Linked DNA regions of Homo sapiens. The protein of the gene in region 2 binds, or shares a complex with, the protein of the main gene of each other region. Each region holds a gene or a part of one and is shown on either strand. Other genes may lie near its edges.

Region 1 (8,296 bases), on a different chromosome or scaffold from region 2:
TAGTATGACGCCTAAATGAGAGCAGGACCTCCAGGGCTCTGCTAAGGTCAGGCTGTTAAATGGTCCTTTCCTAGACTTTCTTATGTTTTTTCTGCACTCAATGACAAACACATCACTACTTGGTGCCATCAATTTACCCAGAGCCCATCCTCCTTCAACATTAGGTGTTCATTCTTTTTTTCTTTTTATTTATTTATTTTTATTTTATTTTATTTTTGAGGTAGGGTCTCACTTTGTCACCCAGACTGAAATGCAGTGGCATGATTACAGCTCATTGCAGCCTCAACCTCCTGGGCTCAAGTGATCCTCTCAGCTCAGCCTCCCATGTAGCTGGGACTACAGGCATATCCCACCATGTTTTACTAATTATTTTTTTTTAGACATCGGGTCTCACTATGTTGCCCAGGCTGGTCTCAAACTGTTGGACTCAAGCAATCCTCCCACTTCAGCTGCCTAAGGGCTGGGATTACAGGCATGAACCATGATGCCCGGCCATCTTATTTCTTATAAAAATACAGTTTAAAAGAAAGTGATGCCACAGCCATAAAAAAAGAATAAAATCGGCCGGGCGTGGTGGCTCATGCCTACAAATCCCAGCACTTTCGGAGGCCGAGGCGGGCGGATCACGTGAGGTCGGGAGTTCGAGACCAGCCTGACCAATATGGAGAAATTCCATCTCTACTAAAAATACAAAATTAGCCAGGCGTGGTGGCACATGCCTGTAATCCCAGCTACTCAGGAGGCTGAGGCAGGAGAATCGCTTGAACCTGGGAGGCAGAGGTTGCAGTGAGCTGAGATTGCAGCATTGCACTCCAGCCTGGGGAACAAGAGCGAAACTCTGTCTCAAAAAAAAAAAAAAAAGAACAAAGAACAAAATCATGTCCTTTGTAACAACATGGATGCAGCTGGGGCTATTATCCTAAGCAAATTAACGCAGAAACAGAAAACCAAATACTGCATGTTCTCACATATAATGAACATTGGGTACTCATGGACATAAAGATGGGAATGATGAACACTAGGGATTCCAAAAGGGGGGTGAGGAGAGGAAAAGTTGAAAAACCACCTGTCAGATACTACATTTACTGCATGGGCAACAGGATCATTAGAAGCTCAAACCTCAACATCATACAGTATACCCATGTAACAAACCTACATGTATACCCTTGGATCGAAAAAAAAAAAAAAAAGAAAAAGCGATGCTATTTATAAATAATGATGGTTTGTCATCTTTCAAGAGCTATTTTAATTTGAGGTGTTTTTCAAGAACGTTCAAATGAATGTCTCCCATACACTAATTTGTAGAAATTTTTAATGAAGCAGAAATTACTAGAGATGTAATGAGAATTAGAAACACATCCAAACAGGAGATTTTACATCATTCTCAATCCAAGACCAATCAAGTGATCAGAAATAAGTGAAATTATGGAAATTGTAAACATTATAAGTCAGACCTTGTGATTATATATCAAACTCTGTAACCCAGTACCAAAAAATGTACTTCTTAAGTGTTTCTAGAATGTTTTAAATGTCTCCCATGCACTAATTTGTAGAAATTTTTAATGAAGCAGAAATTACTAGAGATGTAATGAGAATTAGAAACACATCCAAACAGGAGATTTTACATCATTCTCAATCCAAGACCAATCAAGTGATCAGAAATAAGTGAAATTATGGAAATTGTAAACATTATAAGTCAGACCTTGTGATTATATATCAAACTCTGTAACCCAGTACCAAAAAATATACTTCTTAAGTGTTTCTAGAATGTTTTAAAAATATCTGGCCAGGTGTGGTGACTCATGCCTGTAATCCCAACACTTTGGGAGGCCAAGGCAGGTAGATCACCTGGGGTCAGGAGTTTGAAACGTTTGGCCAACATGGAGAAACCCCAGCTCTACTAAAAAATACAAAAATTAGCCAGGCATGGTGGCATGAGCCTTGTACTCCCAACTACTCAGGAGGCTGAGGCAGGAAAATCACTTGAACCCAGGAGGCAGAGGCTGCAGTGAGCCGAGATCACACCACTGAACTCCAGCCTGGGTGACAGAGCAAGACTCCATCTTAAAAAAAAAAAAAAAAAAAAAAAAAAAAAAAAAAAAGTCATAGTCTGTTAAAAAAAAAAAAAAAAAGCCTCGGCTGGGGATCATGGCTCACGCCTATAATCCCAGCACTTTGGGAGGCTGAGGCAGGAGGATCACTTGAGGGCAGGAGTTTGAGACCAGCCTGGCCAACATGGCAAAACCCCATCTCTACTAAAAATACAAAAATTAGCAGGGTATGGTGGCAGGCACCTATAATCCCAGCTACTTGGGAGGCTGAGGTAGGACAATCGCTTGAGCCAGGGAGGCAGAGGTTACAGTGAGCTGAGATTGTGCCACTGCACTCCAGCCTGGGCAACAGAGTGAGACTCCATTTCAAAAATAATAAATTAAAAATAAAATAATAAAAATTAAAATTTAAAATTAGCCAGGCATGGTGGCGGGCACCCGCAATCCCAGCTACTAAGGAGGCTGAGGCAGGAGAATCACTTGAACCTAGGAGGCAGAGGTTGCAGTGAACTGAGATCATGCCACTGCACTCCAGCCTGGGCAACAGAATGAGACGCTCTCTCTCATCTCAAAAAAAAAAAAAAAAAGAAAGAAAAGAAAGCCTCAGTACATTTCAAAAAGTAGAAATATTACAAATGAATGTAATACAATGCTATAAAATGGTAATTAATTACAAACTAAAAAAAAAAGTGATCCTTCCACTTGTAAATTCTGTTAAACAAAATGAAAACACTGCAAATCAGATTCTAGATGGCAGACCTCAGAGAAAAATTCATCACCTTAACACTGTTAATCATAAACATGAAAGAATGAAAGCAAATGAAGCAAGCATCTGACTGAAAAATTTTTTTTGAGACGGAGTCTCACTGTTGCCCAGGCTGGAGTGTAGTTGGTGCAATCTTGGCTCACTGCAACCTCTGCCTTCCAGGTTCAAGCAATTCTCCTGCCTCAGCCTCCCGAGTAGCTGGGATTACAGGCATGCACCACCACGCCCAGCTAATTTTCGTATTTTTAGTGGAGACAGTTTCACCATGTTGGCCAGGTGGTCTCAAACTCCTGACCTCAGGTGATCCACCTGCCTCTGCCTCCCAGAGTACTAGGATTACAGGCATGAGCCACTGTGCCCAGCCTTGACTAAATTTTTTTTGAACAAGAAAGCCAAAGGATAGTAAAAAGAATAAAGATTAAAGCAGATATTTTTTAAGTGCCTGCCTCCCTATGTGCTACAAAGTAGATGTCCGGGTTGGGGCACTAAAGTTTTAAATGTAAGCCTGAATCAAGCTATAATGCTCAGGGTTTAAACCAGTAAAGGATCTTGAAACTAAACACTGAGTTAAATTTAGTGAGTCAAGTAATTCCATCCTGGCTTATTTATCAGACAAGCACAGAAAGAGCTTAAATATTTATCAGTTTGTCCTGGCACCTGAATGTAACTGCAATTCATAGAGCTGTAATACAGAAATTCTATATTTGGGAATAGATTTGAGTCTCTTGGCAGAGATCTAATTAGCAAAGGCTTCATCATAGAACAGCATACTCAGTCTTCATGGAGCATACTGAAGCACATGTTTGTAAGCAGTCTGCTTGTGACAATATCATAATATTGGATACAGTAACCAGTCTACTTAGAAAAAGTGTGCCCTTCGGTTAACTGGAAGATAACTGGGGCAAAGAACAAAACTTCACTGGCCTGTGAGCCATCTCTGAAACTGAAACCCTTTGATAAATATAGATCAAAGAATTCACTAGAGCGTATTTGATTTCTCTTAAAAGACAATCCAGAGTAGTTGTTGCCATTTGGTATGGCTTTTTTAAAATCACTTGTCTACACTATTCAGGTGAAAGTCGGCCTGCATTTTCTTAACCTTTGGAGTCTTCATTGGCATCCTTTTTAATTTTTTTATGTTCTTCATGTTTTATAACCTTTTTTTTAACTATATATGCAACTTGAGACTTTAAAGTATTTTTAAAAATTGATCATTGTGTAAAACATTATAGTGCTTCTCTTTTTAAAAATTGCCTTATGATTTATTATTTTCCTTAAGATCAGATCTTATTATACATCCAAATCATCTGGGAAGCCTTAAGAAGTACAGATTCTTAGGCTTTCATGCCTGGAGATTCTGACTCATTATGGGTCTGGGATGGGGCACTTGTTTATTTTTAAGCTCATTGTTAGCCAGGGTTAAGAACCACTGGTCTGCACCACTACTTTCAAATTCACATTATTTGATTTTTTTTTTTTTTGAAATTTTACAGCTGGGTCTCTGGGGGTGACATCACATGTTGGCAGGTTCCTTGATGCCCCTTGAGCCACAAAACCAGCAAGTTTTTATTAGGGGTTTCAAAAGGGGAGGGGTGTACGAATAGGGAGTGGGTCACATGCTTCAAAGGCAGTAAAATATCACAACAGCAAAGAGGCAGAGTGAGATCACAAGGCCAGGGTGAAACTAGAATTACTGATGAAGGTCCATGTCGTGCTGGGCACACATTGTCATTGATAAACATCTTAACAGGAAACAGGGTTCGTGATCAGACAACCAGTCTGACTAGAATTCGCCAGGCTGGAATTTCCTAATCCTAGCAAGCCTGGGGGTGCTGCAGGAGGCCAGGGCATATTTCATCCCGTGTCTACAACTGCATAAGACAGACACTCCCAGAGTGGCCATTTTAGAGACCTACCCCTGAGAATGCATTCGTTTTCCCGGGGTTATTCCTTGCTGAGAAAAGAATTCAGCGATATTTCTCCTATTCGCTTTCTGAAAGAAGAGAAATATGACTCTGTTCTGCCAGGCCCTGCAGGCAGTCAGATTTTATGGTTATCTCCCTTATTCCCTGCAAATCGCTGTTATCCTGTTCTTTTCAAGGTGCTCAGATTTCATATTGTTCAAACACACATGCTTTACAAACAATTTGTGCAGATAACGCAATCACCACAGGGTCCTGAGGCGATATACATCCTCAGCTTACGGAGATGACGGAATTAAAAGATTAAAGACAGGCATAGGAAATTATAAGAGTATTGATTGGGGAAGTGATAAATGTTCATGAAATCTTCACAATTCATGTTCAGAGATTGCAGTAAAGACAGGCATAAGAAATTATGAAAGTATTAATTTGGGGAACTAACAAATGTCCATGAAATCTTCACAATTTATGTTTTTCTGCTGTGGCTTCAGCAGGTTGCTTTTCTCTTCTGGAATACGAAAAAGAGTAACTTTTTTATGATTGGCATATGAGAATATAGTCTAAGTACTTTGAAAACGTGTTTATAGTTCATGTAAGAGACATTCTTTGGTAATTGGGTAGCTTATGTAGATTTTAATAGGATTCCATTGTAAATGAAAGTTAATCTTAGGAATTAAATGAATCCTTAGGGAAATTTGTACTCTATCTTTACAAAATAATATCCTTTAGAAATGTCTCAACATAGGGTAGTCTAGGCTTCCAAGAGATTAAAATTAATGAAAGTTTCTGTAATGTATGTCTGCCAGTAATCTGTGGTAGTCTAGAAAGTAGGGATTATAAAAATTTGTTGTTTGCATACACGCATAAAAACTTTCCTATTATTTTTTGTATTTCTCTTATGCTTTCAGATATGCAAGAACTGTACAGGTTGCTTTGATCGACACATCCCATGTGTTTCTCTGAACTGCCCAGTACTTTTCAAACTCTCCCGAGTAAATAGAGAATTGTCCAAGGCACCATATCTCCGGCAGTTATTAGACCAGTTTTAAATTGTCAATATCACAGTATTACAGGTGCTATTTTTTTCAGTGCTTACCACTAAACTGTTGTGCATGGTGCTTTTTAACTTTCATCGAGTCAAGGATGTTCACTGTCTGTTATCTGAAGACTATGAAGACTTCTATGCTAACCGAATTAAAATGTACTTGTTGATCTCTGAATAGCTCACTTCTTACAATGTACAAATTCCTCATTCTGTCACCTTTTAAACATTGTTTTATAATGCAGGTGTTGGATTTGCTCCAGTATGTGTACCATCTTGTAAATTCATTTGAGTAGATCATGTTTACTTCCCAGTGGAAGGAGCACTGAAAACCTCTTAAAGAAAAAGCATTTGTGTGTTTTCCTTGAACTGTCTGTATCAAGACGTGTTACTTCGAGATATCCATTCACTTTATAATTTTGACTGCAAAATATTTTGTAAATACACTTTTTTACTTTTCAAACGAGCAAAATAATGTGCAATGATTTTTATACAAATGATTTTCAAGTTGTTTGGTATATTTCCTCTAGGTTTTGCTTGACTCAAAGTAGATCGTTATTTTGATCAAACTGTGCAAACAGTAGTACCACGTGTAGCATTTTGAAACATTATTTTTTTTTAAAAAATGCTGTCTTGCTTTAGCTATTAATGGGGCATTGTGAGGAACTGTGCAAAGACATTTTTGTTACAAACCTGTGGGCCTGTTGCAATACTTTAAAAATAAAAAATTTTATTCCATTTGCTTGTTTTGTATAGACATTTCTATTGCTTCTAAATATACTTAAAATATTTTCTTTCCTTATGTACTGTACAGTTAATCTTATTTGCCATCATCTTGAACACAAAATGTGTATTTAGAATATTTGTATAACTGTGTAAAATAAAAAAGGAATTATGTGGTCAGTGCATTGTTTTTTAAACTGGAAATCATTTTGTTTTAAAAGTTAATAATGGAAACCATATTAAAATTGAATAAAATATAAAATAATATAGCAGTGTGACTTCATCTTTTTTATAAGCCTGTATTGGTTACATCTTTCTTACCCTACCCTTTTCTGAGTTTTAATGAAGTAAATTATTTAACATATTTTTATATCCTGTTTGATATTGCAATTTCCTTACCAAAACTTCTTCAGGGTTAAAACAAAAAAAAAAATAAAAAAAGGGCAGCAAAAATGGGAAAATTTAATTTAGCACTCATCCTTTTAGAGAGTTTTAAGAGTGTACTTGTTTGTTAGTAGATCTTCAGTGTTCATTTTCATTTTGATATAATTATTAATTAAATTACAGAGAAAGCAAAAACTACATTACTTCTTAAAAACTTAAATGCCAATTTTTATATGCCTATTTTTTTCAATAGAAAAAAGTTAGTTATTATTTTAACAGAAATAACTCACCTGGTTATTTAACAGAAATAGGTCTTCCATTGCCAGAATATGTACTTGCAAATGTTGGGAGGATTCTTTTTCTGAAAATTACATGGTAAATATGGAACCAAAGAGATACATAGCCTGTGTCTGAACATAATTTATTTCAAGTCTTGTTAAGACATAATGAATTTCCACTTCTGGGGATTTTTTTTTGTTTGGGAGGCTGGGGCTAGTCCTCAGCATTGGGGTTTTTTCCCCCTTTTATATGTGTAGATTGATGAAATTCTGTTACTTACAAGTTCTGTGCTGTCAGGACTTCCACACACATCATCTCTTTCTCATCATAGTAACTTGACACAATATTTTCAACACAATAACCATTTTTAACCTGATTGATTGATTATAATTGGATACAGCCATATTAACAAATGGTTATTCAACATGAATGCCTAAAACTAGCTCACACTCAGCCTGTCTCTGGTTCTGTTTTCTGCAGGAAAGCTCCTCCTTTGTAACTGTCCTCAGAGTCTGTAGCTTAACTGCCTTTTAGTGAGGTCCATTTGCTGTTTCACTAACTCATCGGGGAGGGTGCTGAAATTTGGAACTATTTTACCAAGAAATTTTCTTGTAAGGATCTTCCTGTGTTCCATAATTTTCCCTCCTTTTTAGATGATTGGCTATTAATAAAGTTTTGTCTCTCAGATCACAGAAAAAAAAAATTTAAGTATGGCTGAAGAAACAGTTTCATTCTTTAGGATGTTTTCATTTACCTGAAAAGGAGCCAGAAGCTCAGAGACATCAAATAACTTCATTAAACATTTCCTTAATGTTTAATGAATTAAGTGAAACATTAATATTTGTTAAAGTTGTTTAACATTGTTTTCTCTCATTTTTCTCACTTTCTACTCAAGCTTTTCCCTAGATGAATCATGTAATAATCAATTCTATATGGACACAACATAGTGTCTTTGAGGAAGGACAATAAATTTGGAAAAAACATAAAAATGTGAAGAGCAGTTTTAAAGATATGAAGAATTCTTAGAGGAGGTGGCCCTCATCTTGCCAATGGAGCAGGCCACCCAGAGAGCTTGTGGACTCCGTTCAACCCCACTGACTGTCATGGGTTATACCCTCAGTCTCAGATG
Region 2 (7,979 bases):
GAGACCTACACAGAGGTGGTGACAGAGTTTGGGACCGAGGTGGAGCCCGAGTTTGGGACCAAGGTGGAGCCCGAGTTTGAGACCCAGTTGGAGCCTGAGTTTGAGACCCAGCTGGAACCCGAGTTTGAGGAAGAGGAGGAGGAGGAGAAAGAGGAGGAGATAGCCACTGGCCAGGCATTCCCCTTCACAACAGTAGAGACCTACACAGTGAACTTTGGGGACTTCTGAGATCAGCGTCCTACCAAGACCCCAGCCCAACTCAAGCTACAGCAGCAGCACTTCCCAAGCCTGCTGACCACAGTCACATCACCCATCAGCACATGGAAGGCCCCTGGTATGGACACTGAAAGGAAGGGCTGGTCCTGCCCCTTTGAGGGGGTGCAAACATGACTGGGACCTAAGAGCCAGAGGCTGTGTAGAGGCTCCTGCTCCACCTGCCAGTCTCGTAAGAGATGGGGTTGCTGCAGTGTTGGAGTAGGGGCAGAGGGAGGGAGCCAAGGTCACTCCAATAAAACAAGCTCATGGCACGGACTGCTCACATTCTGAGGTGTCAGGGATGGGGAGGAGGGAGACCGGCTGGTGGGTGCATGGGCTATGGTCACTGTGGGCACCCCTGCAGGAGTCCCATAGCCAGAGTGCCCAGGGCTCAAGGCTCGCATCAGCAAGTGCTCAGGCTTTATTTACAATGCCGACACTGCAGGGAATGAACAGCCTCCATCTGGGCCTCTCTGGTCAAAACCACTTTTTTGAGTCAGGGGCCCAGCCCCAGGCCTCCCAGGTCATCGTCCTCTGCCCCGAAGCCCGAGAAGCTGATGGGCTGGCAGGCCAGGCTGCGCAGGTTCACAAGGCAGGCGGTCTGCGTGGCACTGAAGTCAGGGACAGTCACCAACAGCACTGTCTGGTCCTCAGGACCTGCAAAGAAGTCACATAGGACCCACTGTAGGTTCCAAGTAAGTCCTGCCTCAAAGAGAAGCTGCCAGAAATAAACAGGAGTCCCCATTGGCACACAGTGGGGCAGTGACAATAGGAGACCAGAGATTAGCCTTGAGAGGCACACAGGCTGGGAGCCGTTCCAGTCCCTGCCCAGCTGGCGAGGCAGCTTGGCTCCCACAGTGAAATGGCAGCTGTGCAGAAGACCTCAGCTGTCCATCCCACAAGGGCCAGGGGGACTCCACAATGCAGGTTTTCTTCTCTGTGAACCTTGTCCCCAGGTGAGAGCAAATCAGCAAATCAGCCTGGGCCCCCAGAAGACAAAAATTACCTCGGATGATTTTGGAGCCAAAGCTGGGGGTGTTGCCACAAAAGTAGACATGCGGGCACTCTGGGAAGATGAACGGGTCAGTTTTGTAGAAGGGGTAACAACCTGGAGGAGAAGGGGCAGCTCTGAGGAGGGTTCCGCCTCAGCACTAGCACTCTGCACAGGATGTGGGGCTGCAGCCCCTCCTCCCATTGCAGGCCAGTAGGAGACCCCCAGTGTGACAATAGGGGCACCTCCAGACATTGTCACAAGACCTTGGCCCTGCTGTTGCTGCCCGTTGGGGTGGGCAGCCATTGGCCTTAGAATTAAGATTCCAGAGTAGCTTCCAGAGCAGGTGCCAAGCCTCTGAACTTCTCCTCAGACAGTTCTCAGCAATGCTGGCAAGTGCAAACCCACAGGGGGACCCTGTGCACTTCAGGGTCCTGCCAGGCCTCCTGGCCCTCTGCTCCCACCCTGTATGGCTGAGCCTGTTACCTAGAGTGTCAGGGGCTGTGGGGCTGATGTGACGGACCCGCAGGGTCCACTCCAGGATCTCCAAGTGATCCTCCATGCTGCTGTATCGGAAAATGTCACTCACGTTCTGTCCTGATGTCCCCAAAAATCTGCAAGGCAAAGCTCAGCTGACTCTTGGCTTTGGGTGCCACCCATAGTGGTCAGCCCAGAGCTCATCTGGCGCTCTTGTGGGGATGCCCCAGAGAGAAGGAACAGATGCTAGGTGGGCCTCTGCAGCCCTGCCACCTTCCTGGGCCCTCCCTCCCCTCCCTTCTTTGTGCCTCCTGAGGCAAAAGGCTGGGTCAGACTGAAGTGTGGCTGTGCCAGCTACCTGACTCCATCAATGGTGGCCTGGTAGGGGTTGGTGACCAGCTGGAGCGTGGAGTAGGCAGTGGCCAGCGGGAACATGCAGGGGTGGAGGGGCTGCTGGGGGAGCGTGTAATTGGTGGGATCAAACTCGCCTGGCATCACGTCCACGGGCACTGAGGCCTGGAAGGCACAGGGCAGGGAGAGCTCACAGGGCCCCGAAGGAGCCCCCTACACCAACTCCGGCCACTCCCCCTGCCCTCCTGCCTGCCTTCTGTTGCCCAGTGGCAGCTTTGAAGACTGCAATCCCCATCACCCCTCCAGCCCCCAGCTCGCTCACGCTCAGCTGCAGGAGGATCTCATCCAGCATCTTAACAGCCTCCACGCTGGCTGCCTGGGTTTTCTTGGTGAGGTATTTGGCCTGGAATAGAAGCCCAGAAGGCCATCAGGCCCAGGCGAGTCCCAGGCTCAGAGGAGAGTAGAGCCCCACCAGCTGGAAGATGCAGTTGTTGTCCCATAGACCCTCACTCCCTTCAAGCCTCCCACCATCCTCAGCGAGGGCCTGGGCATGAGGAGCCCCATTGCAGGAGGCCCCAGAGTCACTGCAGGGCGCTTCCCACCGACCTGCGAGACCTCACAGGGTACCCTACTCGCCCTGGGGAAGGAGGGTCTTACAGGCTTGCAGGCTCCTGGGCTGGGGCTGAATGCAGCCAGGTGGGCTCCATACCTTATTGATAGAATCCCTGCTCTGGGTGCTGTGGCTGAGGAGGTTGCCAGCGAGGATAACCCGGGAGACGTGGGCGGCGCTGCACTGCTCCCCTTCGTCCCCAAGCTGCCCCGTCACCACATCCACCAGCAGCTGGGTGCCCAGCAGGCTCTCGCCTCCACCGCCACCCAGGCCCAGGCCGGACACCAGTAGCACAAACCTGCGGGAGAAGGTGGGGTCCTCCAGGGTGCCGAGAAGGGAGGCAGCCCCTCCTAGGTGCAACTCAAAGATTCCACTGACCATGAGCTGGTTCCAGCTCCCGAGAACTGCTGCTCACCTATCTGTGTCAAGTGGGGGTGCGGGCTTCTGGGGAGCAAGGTCAGCAAAGCAATAGTCCTCCACCAGAAACTTCCCGTCGTCTCTCACGGAGCCAAACACAGCCAGGACAGTCCCTGGGGAGCAGTGGCATCAGGCCTGAGCAGGGAGCCCCAGGTGCTACCACTCCTTCCAGTCACCCCAACGGGCAAAACAAGCCAGTTCTCCACAACCACATTGGTGAATTCTCACCTAGGACTCCAGGATGCATGCCTGCTTCCTGGAGTCACTGCCCTTGGATGGAGGTGGGGAGACCCATCTCCCAGCCAGGTCTCACCCAATCTGATGGCCTCCGACCGCCTGGAGCCTCACCTACCTCCTCAAGAACACACGTGTGCCCAGGCCACACCCCCCCACTCCCCCCAGGCTCCCCACTCACACCATCCCTAACACACCACCGCTGGGCTCTTCACCTGCATCACCCACATCCTCTCATTGGGCTCCCTACCCGTAACCAGCTTTGACACGTCAATGGTGCCTTTTAGTTTGATACGCTGCAGTTCATCTTCCAAGACCAGCTCGTCATCTGGGTGTATGTATTTACTCCGAGGAGGCTGGGGGAGCAGGTTGTGCTGGAATGCAGAGACAGGAGGTATAATCTTGGGGCCAGAGCCCACCAAAGCTCTGGTGTTAGTGAGCTGGCACCGCAGCCCCCACCCCTCTGGAGTCCATTGTCTCTGAACCTGCTTCCCCACAACCCCACCTCCAGGGAGGTGTTCTAGTGGGAGGCCAGGTCTGCCTGGCGGCCCCACTGTGTAGCACCCTGCCTCACCTCCTCGCTGACCTCCCGCAGGATGGAGGGCTGCAGCGGCATGGCCTTGAACAGAGTGCCCACCACACAGCACTTCTCCTCAGGCTGCAGTTCACACAGCTTCTTCACTCCCACTCCACTGCCTGGGACACGAGGGGTACAGACTCAGAGATGAAGTAGCCCCCCCGCCCGACAGAGGCCATGGAGGCCCTGCCCAGCACTCCATGAGAGGCCAATCACAGGGCCCTGGCCTTGCCAGGAGAGAACATCAAGTACAAGGACCCCCTGGACTTCACGGTGACAGTAAAAAGTGAGTCAGCCACAGGAGACCAGGGACTCTGGGTGTGGTTGGGCCCTGGATGCCAAGTGTCCTCATGAGAACAGAGAGACAGACACACAGACAAGAGGGAGTGTGAAGACGGGCAGAGCGGAGTGATGCGGCCACAAGCCCAGGAACACCAGGGAGGAGGCCAGGAAGGACCCTCCCCTCGGGCCTTCAGAAGGAGCCAATCCTGCTGACATCTGGATTTCAACTTCTGGCCTCCAGAACTGCCAGAGAGTAAATGTCTGTGTTTTTCTGTTATTGTTGTTTCTGTTTTTGTTTTTGTTTTGAGGCGGAGTCTCGCTGTCATCCAGGCTGGAGTGCAGTGGCGCGATCTCAGCTCACTGCAAGCTCCGCCTCCCGGGTTCACGCCATTCTCCTGCCTCAGCCTCCCGAGTAGCTGGGACTACAGGCGTGTGCCACCACGCCCAGCTAATTTTTTTTTTTTTGTATTTTTAGTAGAGACAGGGTTTCACCGTGTTAGCCAGGATGGTCTCAATCTCTTGACCTTGTGATCTGCCCGCCTCGGCCTCCCAAAGTGCTGGGATTACAGTCGTGAGCCACCGTGCCCGGCCATGTCTGTTGTTTTAAGTCAACCAGTTTGTGGTGCTTTGTTACAGCGCCTACAGGAAACTAATACAAAGTACTGCTTCACTTATACCTAAATTACAACACTGACTCTTAAAAAGAAGCATGCCAAGTCTCAACACAGCCCTGTCCCACAAATAACTGCCATTTTCTTTTAAGACTTTAGATTCTTCCACCCTACCCCCCACCCCCAACCCCCACCAAATGCTTCATCCTCTGAGACCAGAGATACTCAAAATGCAGACCTCAGATCCCCTCCACCCATTCCATTCCCGTGGAGTCAGGTGGCTTTGTTTACCCAGGGCACCTGGGCACCGTCTTCCCCAGCCCCTTCCCGGGATCCTAGGTATGAACAAGAACACATGGGAGGGGCTTGGCACTCTCGAGAAGAAAGGTATGGAGAATCAGTGAGGGCAGGAGGGAGGAATACAGGTGCCCACACAGCACAGATCCAGGCCTGGAGAAAACACCAAGGAGGTGACAGGACAACGCGGATGCCAGACCAGCCCCTTAGCCTAGCTGACTCCAGCACAGCCTGAGCCCCTGCTGCCTGGGAAGAACCAGGAATATTCCTCAAATCTACGCCCTAGGGAGCAGACAGAGGCGAGCAACTCAAAACAAGACAAGAAGGATGCCAGCAGCAGACAGAAATGCAACAGACTCCACATCCTCACGTATCCCACTCTTACTCTCCCCCAGGTGGCCTAAGCACTGTACATGTAACTCAGCCAACGCTGAAAATGTGCCAGGAGTAGATATTATCACCCAACTGATGCACAGAGAGGTTAAGCAATGTGTCCAAGGGCACACAACTGGGATCCAAGTGTATGCCCCTGAGCACTGGGCAGAATGACATCCCTGTAACCGATAGTAGGACATGCTTCCACCCAGGCAATGTGCTGGCACCAAGATCAAAACTGGACATAAAAGCCAACACTTGCCCCCACTCAGCCCACTGGGTCTAGGCAGGAGAACGACAACAGGCCATAGACAAGTAACTCGCCACAGTGACAAGTGCTGTGAACAAATGGTGAGCTGAGGTAGAAAACGGAGGCCCTCATTGCAAGGTGGCTTCAGGTGGCCCCTCAAAGAATATAACACTTCAGCTGACAGTGGGGCTTAGATGGGGCCATGGGAAGACAAGGGAAAGAGTGTGCCAAGTGAAGGGAAAAGCCTACAGCAGGAAGGTCTGGGCAGGTTTGGGGAACAGGTGAGTGGAAAGACCAATTTGGAGAGACAGGCTGAGCTTCAGTGAGGATGCACAGGCCACATGGAGAAGCCACATGTAGGTATTCAGGGTGGGGGCCAGCACCAACCACCAGGCCTGTGAGCGAGTGCTACTGCTGCCCCGCTGCTATCAACACATTCACTGTGGCAGCTGTTTGGTTTCCTGACCAGTCTGTGAGCACAGTGAAATCGCTATCGTCCATCACTGGGGAGCTTTTTTGACAGCTCCAATAACTGGAAGAGAAATGTGCGACCAGAGGAGGTGCTGCCGGAAAGAATCTAGAAGGTGGCATTGACATTGGGCCCAAGTAGTAACTGAGCTCTGAAAGGAGCCAAGGAAGGTGTCCCGAGGGCTGAAAGGAAAGTGAGGAAAAGCTACCGGAGCCGCAGGAGGGAGCCCCTGATTATGTGGGAGAGGAGAGGTGAACAGCACTTTGTCTCAGGTAAACAAAACAGAAAACATCCTGATATGATTTGGCTCTGTGTCCCCACCCACATCTCATCTGGAATTATAATCCACACGGTGTTGACGGAGGGACCTGGTGGGAGGTGACTGGATTGTGGGGGTGGATTTCCCCCATGCTGTTCTTGTGATGGTGAGTGAGATCAAGCCATCATGCGATCTGATGGTTTAAAAATGGTTGGCAGTTCCCCTTGCTCTCTCTCTCCTGCTATCATGTAAAAGAGCCTTGCTTTCCCTTCACCTTCTGCCATGATTGTTAAGTTTCCTGAGGCCTCCCCAGCCATGAGGAACTGTGAGTCAATTAAACCTCTTTTCTTTATAAATTACCCTATCTCAGGTAGTTTTTTATAGCAATGTGAAAATGGACTAATACATATCCCTAATGAATTTGAGGTTCTAGCTAGATTTCTAGGCCCAGGGTTCTCCTGCCTGCCTATAACGAGAATTGATCTTGGCTTGGCATGGGATGAGATGGGCTTCTCAAAGCTCCCCAGGGGATTCCAATGTGCAACTAGGGCTGAGATCCATTTTGCCTGGTGCCAAGGACAGTAAAAATGAGTAAGACCTGGTCTCACCTACTAAATCCTCAGTTTAAAAATATAATAGGAGATGGATTTGAAAATTACCTGGAAAGCCACTCTTATGTAAGTGGTAGGAATGGGGGAATGCAGCAGCACCTAAAACTCAAATAAACTCAAAGGGGGAGATGGGGGTCCCTGCTTCACCACCAAGAGTAATCCAACTGCAGGAGAGATCACCAGGGAAGAAATGGGGGCAAAGAACAAGGGTTGTGTTGGGCAGGCCACTTTATTAGGAAAGACAGAGGGCCCAAGGGACAGGAAAATTCATGGCCAGCAAATATGGGGGCCAGGAGGAGAGGCAAACAGACATGAGTGAACAGAGGGGGTCCCCTCGAGACCAGAGAGTGCATCCTCACCAGTCTTGGCTCCTGGTGCCTGGCGCCAGGCTTGCCACACTGAGGGGCTCTCTGGCTACAGCACAGGCAAATACCTGAATAATCTGCACTGAAGATAGGAAAACCATTTTCCTCTGCCAGTGAAGTAATCGCCATCACCGCCAGAACTAAGTCCTCATCTCCAACCAGCCTCTGAACTAAAACTAACTCCAAACCCACAAATTACTTAATTTAATCCTTGTTACTATCTTAAGAAGAAACTGAGGGAAAAAGAGGTTAATTTTCCCAAGGTAACAGGAAGTGGGATCAATTAGATAAACTGTTCCCATTCTCTTGCAGAACACTTCTAAGTTCAGGGATGCTGTGGGGGAAGCACCTTCCCAAACTCTCACTTACCCCAGTGCTGCTGGGCCCGGTTCTCCAGGAAGGGTCTCATTTGGATGAGGCGGGTGGCATAAATGTGGGCATACTGCCGGCTAAAGCTGCGCTCTCCTAGCCGGAAGGGTTGTGAGGAGTTGGTGTAGGTTGCCACTGGCACCCGGGCAAAGGTGGCATTGTTGGCTGATGGTGGGGAC

What was found.
Region 1: POLD2 (region 2) and REV3L share a complex: the UniProt entries of both Homo sapiens proteins name them as parts of the tetrameric Pol-zeta complex.

The regions. Positions count from the first base shown.
Region 1 is NC_000006.12:111,297,508-111,305,803, reverse strand, and holds the end of REV3L (DNA polymerase zeta catalytic subunit), read left to right. Parts: intron 1-5,647; coding exon 5,648-5,788; 3' UTR 5,789-6,771; downstream 6,772-8,296. UniProt on the Homo sapiens protein: Catalytic subunit of the DNA polymerase zeta complex, an error-prone polymerase specialized in translesion DNA synthesis (TLS). Lacks an intrinsic 3'-5' exonuclease activity and thus has no proofreading function.
Region 2 is NC_000007.14:44,114,034-44,122,012, forward strand, and holds the end of POLD2 (DNA polymerase delta subunit 2), read right to left. Parts: coding exon 7,801-7,979; intron 4,032-7,800; coding exon 3,910-4,031; intron 3,710-3,909; coding exon 3,586-3,709; intron 3,215-3,585; coding exon 3,100-3,214; intron 2,983-3,099; coding exon 2,784-2,982; intron 2,478-2,783; coding exon 2,397-2,477; intron 2,240-2,396; coding exon 2,082-2,239; intron 1,861-2,081; coding exon 1,733-1,860; intron 1,364-1,732; coding exon 1,262-1,363; intron 913-1,261; coding exon 752-912; 3' UTR 647-751; downstream 1-646. Other genes in the region: AEBP1 (adipocyte enhancer-binding protein 1 precursor), read left to right, coding at 1-228. UniProt on the Homo sapiens protein: Accessory component of both the DNA polymerase delta complex and the DNA polymerase zeta complex.